2 separate regions of the Homo sapiens genome follow, and region 1 is linked to region 2. The links come from fine-mapping of genetic effects on gene expression. A gene starts in region 2. The other region holds a variant in brackets. All regions are shown on one strand. Distances are between the middles of the regions.

Region 1 (5,376 bases), 120 kb after region 2:
TCAAGAAGCATGGGGTTAGTGATGATTCTATGATGGCTGTCCTCCACATACTTACCCAGGGATTCAGTCTAGCAGAGGCTCTGCCACCCATCATGTTACCAGCTACCACAGCAAAGGAAGAGACAAGCATAGAGAAATTATACTCACTTTTCTCTACCTTGGCTCTAAGGGGTCACATATGATTTTCACTCACATCTCATTGGCCTCAATGGTCACAAGGCCTTGCCTAACTGCAAGGTGGCTGGAGAATGCAGGGAGGGCCATAGAACATGTGTGAACCTTGCTGTCTCTGCCCGCTCCCAGGATTAGCCTCTGGACACTTCCTCTCAGCATTGTCATTCAAATATTTATAATATTTTGTTTAAGGTCTGCCTTCCTGCTTGACTCAGAGAGAGAGGTTGGGACCCTGTCTTTTTTGTTCACTACTGGATTCTTAATGCCTAGCAAGGTGTCTGGCACATAGTATACCAACAGAGTTGTGACTTCTGGTGCCATCCAGTGGCAGCACACACATATTACAGGAGCAGACACTTTTAAATGATGTAGAGACTAAGGACCAGGATTTCAATTATTTCTGGAAGATGCAAGTGGGAGTGTGGGGAAGTGAAACAGAGTGTTAGAAAATAAAAGATTTTCCAACATTTTGGTAGACAAGTGCTCCAGAGTGAGATTCTCTTGGGGTCATAGCACAGCTTTCCTATCAGTTCTGGCCCACCTCAGTTTCTCTCTTCTCAGGTTTGGCTGGTGAAAGAGCTACTGGAGTAGCCCGGGTTTCCAGAGTTGTCAGGACACAAAATGAGTTAAAATGACACACCAAAGAAAATTCAAGAATCTACCCATAGCTGCTAAATCAGTTGCAAAACAAATCAATTCAGTGGTCTACCTCCACTCTGGCCTGCCCACCTCCAGGGAACAGAACACAAATAAAGCCAGTGACTTTTTTTTTTTTTTCTTCAAGTATATCACTTTTTCCAGACCCGTGTTCAAATGGCTTTTGTTAAAGCTGAAAACATTCAAGGTAAAGAACCATGTTAAGGAGGCTTCTAAAAAATTATCCGGCCCCAAACCTTGAGATTTCCGAGAAGTGCCAGGGCCATCTCTGGCTGCCGACTGCTGTGTCAGATGAAAGATAATGACCCCGGGGCAGATGAAGGGTTTTAAAGAGTAAAGCTTAATCGAAGGTAATAGTGGAAGACAGGAAAAATTGCAGAATGGTAATGGAAAGAGTGCATTAGTGAGGTTTCTGCACTGTCACCCTTTACCCAGGGACTCTGGGCTCTTCCATGTAAGTGGCCCCTTGCTCTCTGGAATCCATTATCTCCCCAGGATGCCTATGATGTGCTTAGTGAGATGGAAACAGTGGTGCCTGACTGCTGGCTCTGGGCAAGAGAACCTAAGGAAAACAACATTTCCCAGAAAATAAGAAACAAAACACAACTGAGTTAAACAATGAAGAAAGCAAGCTTTTGATGACAAACTTTTGGCTGAGAAGTTGTGCTTTGTTTATGAGGAACTGATGAACTGGTTGAGGAAATGGTTTTGGTTTGTTTGGTGGTGAACAAAGATGTAGAAATACACCCATCTTGCAAATACCATTTCTAGGAATAAGAAAGAAAAAAAATTTGGAAGTTCACTGAAATGACAGACTTTTTGGGATCAGGGAGGACAATCTTGAATTTTTAATTAATAATAACTAACATGTATTGGGCACTTGGTAGGTGACAGACACCAGGCTAAGTGTTTTTATGAGGCTTCTCCTTCAATTCTCATGGGTACTATGTGTATGGTCTTAGAAAACAATACCCCGAAATGAAGGCCTCAAAAGCAACAGTTTCTCTCTGACTTTGTCCTTCCCTCCTGTCTCTGACCTCTCATTCTCTCCCAAGGCTAACCATAGAAACTAGAATCCCTTTTCCTCAAAGTGGGTAATAGAAGCCAGAACCCTTTTCCTCCAAGCCAGCCATAACCTAAAAATATTACTTTAACTTTCCTACTGTCTTTCTGTGTAAAAACTGGCCATGAAGAAATTATCTGACCTGCCTTGTTTGACTGTAGGTCATCAGACCCCCATCCTAGAGAGGGTCCTGCCCCACACCCAGTAGGAAGAAACACTGCACAAGACACCCAGAAGAATTGAAATGGACAGTGCTGGGATTCCCCAGTCAGTAAGTGTTAGATCAGACCCTTTCTGTCCATACTTTGTTGAACATAAGCATAAAATAGACAGTTCCCCCTGTATCTTTGGGCCTTCATGCTGAAAGTTCCGGTGTCATGTAAAACTATGATCAAATACATGTGTCTGCCTTGTCTCCTATTAATCAGCTTTTGTCAGCAATTTCCAGCGAAACATCAGAAGGTGATGGGGAAGTCTTCCCTTGGCCCCAATATCTGTTAGGTAGATGTTCCTATGACCACCATTTTAGAGGAGAAATGGGCTTAGGGAAGTTCTACAGCTTGCCCAAGGTCATGTAGCTGGGGGCCTGGGACCAGGACTCCTCCCCAGGCCACTGTCTCCAGGGTCCTGGTTGAGTCCCCTCTTCCTATTTTCTTCATTGCTTAGTCAGCAATATATTTGAACTATATTAAAATATATTTATTGTGCCGTGCTGGAGGCTGGGGACATAGCAGTGTATGAAGAAGGGGCCCTCTGTCCTCAGAAGTCATATACTTGGCTAGCCGAGGTTTTATGTGACTGGTTCTTCTGGCCCATGGTTGCCACTCCTTCCATCCTCCTCCCTCCCTGCAAACAATTTTTCTTGGC[C/T]CCACCTAACATCAAAACTCTGAGCTCAAAGGAGCCCAGAGAACAGCTAGAGGCCCCTAAGCCACCCTTTCCTGTGATGAGGTTCTAAGAATTCTTCAAAGGATTTACCCAACATGATAGGGTGACAAAGTCTGCCGAGGATCTCAAACCAGATTGAGGTGTATTTTCTTCAATGAGATGCTTTAAACTTGTTGAAACGCAGTCACTCAGTTTGCTGAAGTTTAATTATTTTTTTGCTCTGACCTAGAGAGGGAAAGTACAACAGGCAGTTCAGAGGCTCATAGGATGGCAAAGTCAGCTGGGCTCTGAATTTTCTTTCTTGCTTTGTAAATAAATATTTCCACCTACAAACACAAAAGACACTGAGAGTGGCGGGCATTTGTCGGCTAAATTGTGGAAGAGACGGCACATAAGTAATGCAGCTCAAGTAGGCCCTGAATGTGGCAAGGGTGGGAGTAACTAGGGCTTGGAGCTCTTCCTGTGTTTTAGTACGGGAGCAAGTGTACGCCGATTGGCAGCTTTCTTGGACAGAGTTCAGGACCAGGATTTGGAAGACCGGGTCACAAGGTTTTTGCTTTGTGACTAATAATCCACAATCCTTTGCACATCATTTAACTTCTCTGCCTTGGTTTCCTTCTTCACATAAGTGGGATAATAGTGCTGTTATCCTTCCTTATGGGTTTTGCTAATTAACTAAATCAATTAAATTATTTTGATATACCCTGGCCAAAGGTTTTAGTGATAAGTAGAACAAATCATATCAAAACACTGCTTTAAAAAGCTCTGGCTGAAGGATAAAGAGCCATGTTTTACCAGGCATGGTGGGAAACCACTCAAAACCCCTGTAATTGGTATCAAGATTACTTTTGCCATTACTTTTAATGTCAAAAACCACAATGACTTTTGTACCAACATAATATTTTGAAGACAAAACATTTAAGCTAAAGAAGATGCAGAAAGAAATTACTATCTGAACTTCTCTAAAAGCTGTAAAGCAGAACCTCTCAGAAAATACAGCTGTCAGTAGCCCTCCCTTGAGGTCTTCCCTGTGAATTCAGCTGCCAGGGAGATAGACTGCCCATTCTATTCACATCAAAAAGCCTGATAGAACCTTCTATACCTTCTCACTGAAGCCCTGACACTCCTCCCCAGTCCCCTAGCTAAGTTTGGTATATAAACCCTTTATCTCTGTCTATTGGGATGAGTTACTCCTCACTGAATCTCTCCGTTGCAGGTGTAAATAAACTCTTTTTTTTTTTTTGTCTTGCTCATCTGTCTTTTGTCAGTTCAATTTGCAGACCCCACAGGCTGAACGTGAGAGAGGAGAGGAAAAGTTTTTTCCTCCCCTACAACATACAAATTCCTTTACTACCCAACTGCTGCTCACCAAGTGCCCTATACTCCACCGTACACATTCATCTAGAGCTCTTAATCAAACACATGTGTTCATACTTCTGTCTGAGCTGTTTCCTTTGCCTGAGATGCCCTAATCTTCTTTGTTTGCTCTGGAGCCAGACATTGGGTTTATACCTCCCTTTCCCCACCATGACTTGTTCCCTTGAAAGCTGAATGAACTCACTCAAGTTACTTAGCTTATCTGAGCTTCTCTTCCCTCATTTCTAAGTTGGGAATAATAATAATTCCTAGTGGCACAGCTGGAGTTCTGGGAGGGGAAGAACCGGGAGCCCACCTGTTATCCCAGACATGATGGTTGTGAAGAATGAGAGGACATTCAAGGAAGCAGTGGGAAAGCTGGTTCTGTTCAACCTCCGTTTGAAACATTAGCAGTCAGAGCGAGAGATAATAGAGCAAAAGGTCAAAAGACAGTGCCTTTTTTAATGTGGTCACTCTCCTTGATAGCAGAGCCTGCCAATGCTTCTGATGTAATTGCCACACCAGCTGATACGAGGATTTAAGGAAAGGGAGTTCACGCAGCACTTGGCCCAGGTCTTGATACACAGAGCTCAGTAAGCGTTAGTTATGACTATTTTTTTTTTTATTAACTTACTCTTTTACCAGTGTTCCCATGTGCTTTATGCATAACTTACCACGGCACTTAGTTGCTTGGGAAGTTGTGTAGCCTCTTTGCACTGCAGTGTCCTCATCTGTGAGATGGGAATGCTAGCAGCACTGCTGTCTGGGGGTATCGTGAAGATGACTTGAGATGATGCATAAAGCCCTCTCAACAGGAAGCACCCAGAAGGCATCAGCCATTACAGTTGCTTGGTGGGAGGGAGCTGAGCAACACCATAAGCACAGCTGGGCCTAATGCATGTTAGGTAATTCCAAGTACATTTGGGAAGGACAAATATGTCAAGACCTACTCTAGTGAGGATCAGGAGAACTGCAGCTAGTGCTGTGGGGTGTCCACTGTGGGGAGGTGGGCACAGTTGTATGGGTGCCCTAAGCTGTAGGTCTTCTGTGCCTTACTTACCTCCTGGGTTTGACTGGAAGACTTTTAGAGAAAACACTGAAACCACCTTTGCAAAAAATTATAACAGTAAGAAAATTAAGACAGTGAAAGAGATCTGACTTGCCTGCCTCCATCTTGCACGTAACCTCCAAGCTGTCCTTGTTCATTCCTGGGCATAGGCTGAGCTGACATTGGGAGGAAC
Region 2 (5,376 bases):
TCTCATGACACTGAAACTGAATCTAAAAAAGGGTAAATGACATAGCCAAGGTTATAAAACTCATATATAATCAACCTGAGATTTGTACCCAGCACCTCTCTGGCTTTATTCATTTAATAAATATTGACTGTGCCTGGAACTCTGCACATTTCACAACATCAGGATTAGTAGTAGACAATCACAGAGAGGCTGAAAAGGTCAATTCAATTTAAAATGAAAGCAAAATCCTTCAAAAGCATAACTGGTAATGTAAAGGCTGAATCTCAGCCCATATTCCTCTTGCAGGCCCTCAGAACTGTCCTCAGGTCCCTAGAGCTGGACAGACTCTTTATGGTCATTTTCCAAAGCCCCCTTCTACAGTGTGGAGGTCCAGAATCAGAAGAGCAACGTGCCTGGCCACCACTGCAGAGACAGGCTAGAAGCCAGCCCCTTGTGGCCCATGCAGTGCGCCCCAGGTGGGCGCCCTTCCCTTCCTGGAAGCACTAACAACTCTCTACACCTGGGGCTACATAGCCACTGCTGGGATTACTCAGCTTTCTGCCCCAGCTGCTGCCTTTGTCACCATTAAGACCTCCACCAAAGGCAGAGTAGGGGAAAGGTTTTAAAAAAATAAAGTCATTCATTGTAGAAGTCTCCTTCTCTCAGGCCTTCCACAATACTTCTCCCTAGACCTTGGAGAAGAGGCAACTGCAACTAGAGGCTCTATCTACTGACAGAGCTCTTCCTGCTAGGGGTGGAGGGGAGGTGGCTACAGATCCAAGGAAAATTCCATTTTCTTTCTTGGTTGGTGACACTGACCATTCAAGACTCCTAATCCTGCCCTGTTTTCTAATTCTGGTAAAGTTTCCTAGTGTCACCAGTAAGAGAAACCGCTTTGTTTCATAAGTGGATTCTTGAAGGTTGATGCTTTTACCAGAACTAGAAGGGATCAGGGTAAAGTATAGGGTAGTAAAAGGGAAGAAAGGGTGACAAAAGCAATCTGGGAAGTATGGAGCCCAGAGAGACTCAGAGGACTAGGCCATGAGAGAACAGGGAGAAGAGAAAGTACTAAAAGCCAAAGTGCAGCCTCAGAGTTCTAAGAAGATGGGGATTATCTGCACCATAGACTAGGAAACCTGGCTTTCTTGCTGTACAGTCTCTTAACTGGTTGCCTTGTGAAAAATCCTCAAATCGTTCTGCCTTTTCTGGTGAAATGGGAGTAGACAAGGATTTATAAAATGCTCTATTATAGGCAGGTCGAAGGTGTTTTAACAATCCATAGAATGAATGGCCTCTGAGTCTGTAAAGGCATATTTTTTAAAAAAATACAGTAGCCAAATGTTTTCCTGTAAATGAAAAAACCAAAACCCCGAGAGAAACAAATTAACTTGAAGGTGTTTTCCAAGCCTAAAAGTAACCAAAGCCCCATAGGTTTGCTGAAGGAGACCGTCAAAACTCTAAACTGGTTTAGGTGAAATCCTCTCCAGGCATAGGTATCTCAGTGGAGGTCAGTTTCAGGCTGAGCTTTTTATGAAATCCGCCTAGAAAAGTAAGAGATGAAATGGAGCAAGGGAACTGGAACTTCCACAACTTTCTTTGCAGTGGAAGGTGACTCTCTTGACTTCTAGTATGGATTCCTTCCAGTCCCGTCCTCTTCCCCTTACAATACTCAATTTAATGTACTGAACTCCTCCTTCTGAATCTAGTGCAAAGTACAGTGGTGGACCCTCAGGGGATACCTGGATGGGGAGAGGCAGGGCGTGCATACAGGGCCAAGAATCCTTCGTTCCTGGGATTATAAGCACGGGAAGTCCAGCATCGCAAGCTTCCTGCCGCTACTGGGTATGGTGGTGCAAGGCACAGTCCCATCAGTGTCGATGTGAATGGAGTTGTGAAGTGCACAACTTGTCCAGCCCCTACGCCGAGGCCAGGCCTTTGTTCATGCAGTTGCCTAGTTCTGGTCCTTTGGCTACAAACTCAAAGCTGCCTGGCCAAGAGCCCTTTCACTCACTGTCCCTCTTTCTTCAACTTCTGTTATCCAAGACCCTCTATAGAATCATAGTGAGGGGGAGAGGAGTGCAGCTTCCCATACGGAAGGCGATATGTTTCCCTGACCCACGGATCTGGAAACTTCCGTGGGGCAGGGGCAACCGAGGGGTGCCACCTCTGCGGGCTCCCTGCAAGCTCCTCGGCCGTTCTGGGCAGGGCCGGGAGGGGCCACCAGGTGGCGCAGCCGGAGCCCAGCGCCCCAGCAGGTGCGGGCAGCGCGGAAAGTCCGCGAGTGGGAGTCCCGATGCCGGGCGTGGAGATGTGGGGGAGGAAGTCGGCGGGCGGGCGCCGGCTCCGCGAAGAGCTTCGGCCCTAGCAGATCTCACCGGACGAGCTCTGGCCTCGCGGCCGCCCCTCTACCACCCCTCAGCCCCAGCTCCCTCCCCGAAACCCCGGGCGCAGCGCGCCGGGCGTTCTGGACACGTCCGCCCGTCGCGCTGGTGTCCCGGGACTCCGGCCGACCCCGGCCCCCCTCCGCCCTCAACTTCCCTCGGGGTGTTGGGGCGACGGGCAGGGGCCTCTTTCCCAAGAAAGGACACAGGCGCTCCCGAGGGCCACGGCCGCCTCTACTCACCGCGGAGCCTCTCTCGCCTTGCCCAGGGTGCCCATGGCCGCGGCCCGCGCTCCCGGTGCCGGCTCACCTAGCGCGGCCGGGCGCGGCGCATCGCCCCCGCCACCACCGCCGCCGCCTGCCGGCTCTCTCCCCCCCGGGCCTCGTAGCCCCGGCGCCCGCCAGCCCTCGAGCCCGGCGAGCCCGACCGAGGTGCACCGCAGGCACAAACTTTGTGCGAGCGCGCCCCCTCTGCCTCGCGCGCGCGCTCACACCCGCCTGGCAACCACCTGACACGCTGATGCTGGCGGCTGCAGGAAACGTGCGGCGCCCCGCCGCTCTTCCCCGAAACCTGCCCCCTTTCCGCGGGTGCCCCGGCCTGCGCCTCGCGCGGTTCTCTCACCCCTGCCCGCCTTCGACCTCTCTTGGCCAAAGGGTTAAGTCTCAGGGGAGTTGGAGAGGAGCGGGCTCCCGGCTACCACGCCCGCGCCTTGCAGGGCACCTGTGCCCGTCGACCTCCACCTCAGCTCGGGAAACGGGCTGCGCCTAGCGGCTCCCATGGGACCCCCTTTCCCGCAGCCGACCCGCAGCTTCCACGCCTCTTCCTGCGGCCGCTGCTCGGAGCACTGCAGTGAGGACGCCTTCTCCCCTCCAGGGCCTCTCCTGTATATATCAGAGCGCGGAGTCCGGCAGGGGAAAGGAACGGAAAGACAGTTGTGAAGTTGCCTTAACCTGTGCCCTGGGGTCTCTAGGTAGCCGTCTGCAGGACTGGGCCGTAGACATGTGCCCTGTGCCCTGCGCCCTGCACCTTGGACGAGGGCTGCCTGTGTGGAGGTGCGCTCCACAGGCGTGATCCATATCTGGCCCAGACGCGGCCGCCTGGCGTCGGTGGGTGTAGGAGATGTGGGGACAACTTTCATACAACGTCAGTGCGCACAGAAGACCTGGCCAAGAGGGGCGGCCCATCCGCTGCTTGTCCAGGTGATAGTGCTGATAATCTCAATAGCTAATGATTGAGTGCGGTTGTGCTAAGTGCTTTCTATACATTACCTCATTTAATCCACTCTCCCTGATACAAAGAGATCACTGTTGTAAAGATGAGAAAATGAAGGTTTAGAGAATGCTATGCCTTAGATCATACAACTAATAAACAGCAGAGAGACCTCTGACTTGGACTGAGGTCTGTCTGACTCCCTGTAATCACTGCTGGACTGCCCTAATAACACACTCATTATCACGGCCACAGACCATAACTCTAGCCACAGTCATAGTTGTCTTCCTGGCCATAGTGTTCTGGACTTTAAAGCCTTCCTCTGTTTCATTTATATATTTCCTTATATTTATATGCTACCTTGTCCTTAAAACAGAATTCGAGATAGCTTACAAGAGCACATAACCTACAAAAAGAAGTGTGTGAAATGAAAAATGAGGCACACAAGATGGAGCCAAAAATGAACATCATTTGAAATAAATGCATCTCATAGAGTCAAATACCCTTGCTACAGGTGGGACCAAAATTTGTCTCCTGCATTTCTAGCAGTCAAGTTTAAAGAGAGGCCTTGTCTAAAGTTCAATTCCTATCACATGCAAGACCAAAAACAAAATTGCTCAAGAGAAGATCCCCCTTTCTTGATACTGAGACCAGCAAGAAATTTCTCCAGAGAATCCTCATGAACACTGGGTGATATAAAGAACCAAGTCCTCAGTCACAGCCACAGATGCAGAAGGGGCAGGTGAATGTCAGGAGAATATTAAATGATGACACTCTTTCTCACTCACTGGGTCTAAGGCTCAAACATTTTTAGAGTTATCTATTATACACCCTTCCTCATGTAAGCCCTACAACCTAAACAACCAAGTTGGCGGATGTCTGAGGATGGTAAAGATTTGTATCTATATATGAATCTATCTGACTATCTCCCAACAGTCCTAAGTTTGCAGTCTTAGACTTTGTTCACAGAGATCTTCTCTTATTACCAGGTGAACAATTACTTTTCACTGACCCCTCTACTACAGAATGAGCTCTTTACCCTACTTAAATCTATAATATTTACACTTTCAATTGCCACATAATATTCTGTGTCCCTGTCTTACCTCCACAGCTAAACTGTAAATTGTCCGAGGTCAAGAATCAGGTCTTATGCTTCTTTAGCTTCCACAGCTGCCAACTTGAGGCAGTACCTGTGGGACATTACTAATGAACTGCTGTGGATTTGATTTTGAAAAGCAAAATGTGCTGACCTCAAAGAAGAAAATAAGATCCTTCCTGATTATTTCCGGAGAAAGGGTTTCAGTTTTTCTTTGAAGTCCGCTGTCTATGGCAGGAGTGATAAGCTTACTGGCACTGTCCCCGGTGGCTTTCGTGGGATCCCCATCACAGGTTATCCGAGGCCTTCGGTATTTCTCTATTGCTTCACCCTTGAAAATAGAGCCCCTTCCATGCCATTCATTGCACTGAGTCTTTGGACAGCAAAATCTTTGTGTGTGGCAGGGGAATAATCCAGCCTTATACTGCATATGCATAGGTATGTATGCCAAATGGATGCCTTTATGTAAATGCATCATTATATTTATATGTAAATATACATATATGCATAATACTAAGTGCACATGTAGGCAGTTACACACATCTGCACACCTACAGTCCACATATATACAAATGGTTGAAACCAAGGTTATTAATTCATTCAATACATGAGTCTTGCTGAGTTTTCTAAAGAAAGAGGCCTACATATGCCCAGCGAGTGTTTTTCTCTTGGACTTTCTGAGTACTCTGCACTTCACTTGCATCTGATTCT

The links.
Region 1: its variant is fine-mapped to the expression of RASGRP1 in whole blood (TOPMed, PIP 0.94).

What each region holds. Positions count from the first base shown.
Region 1 is chr15:38,683,327-38,688,702 of GRCh38, forward strand. All of the region lies in intron 1 of LOC105370775 (a long non-coding RNA gene), which reads left to right. Among named protein-coding and RNA genes, the nearest start is that of LINC02694, 11 kb to the right of the region's middle. The variant C/T (reference allele first, on the strand shown) is at 2,762.
Region 2 is chr15:38,561,992-38,567,367 of GRCh38, forward strand. It overlaps RASGRP1 (RAS guanyl releasing protein 1), which reads right to left and starts at 2,823. Exons shown (of 17, transcript NM_005739.4): 1 at 2,603-2,823. The coding sequence starts at 2,637. RefSeq lists enhancers at 215-344, 405-504, 2,887-3,398, 3,240-3,429 and silencers at 2,120-2,319, 2,330-2,549, 2,580-2,819, 2,980-3,029.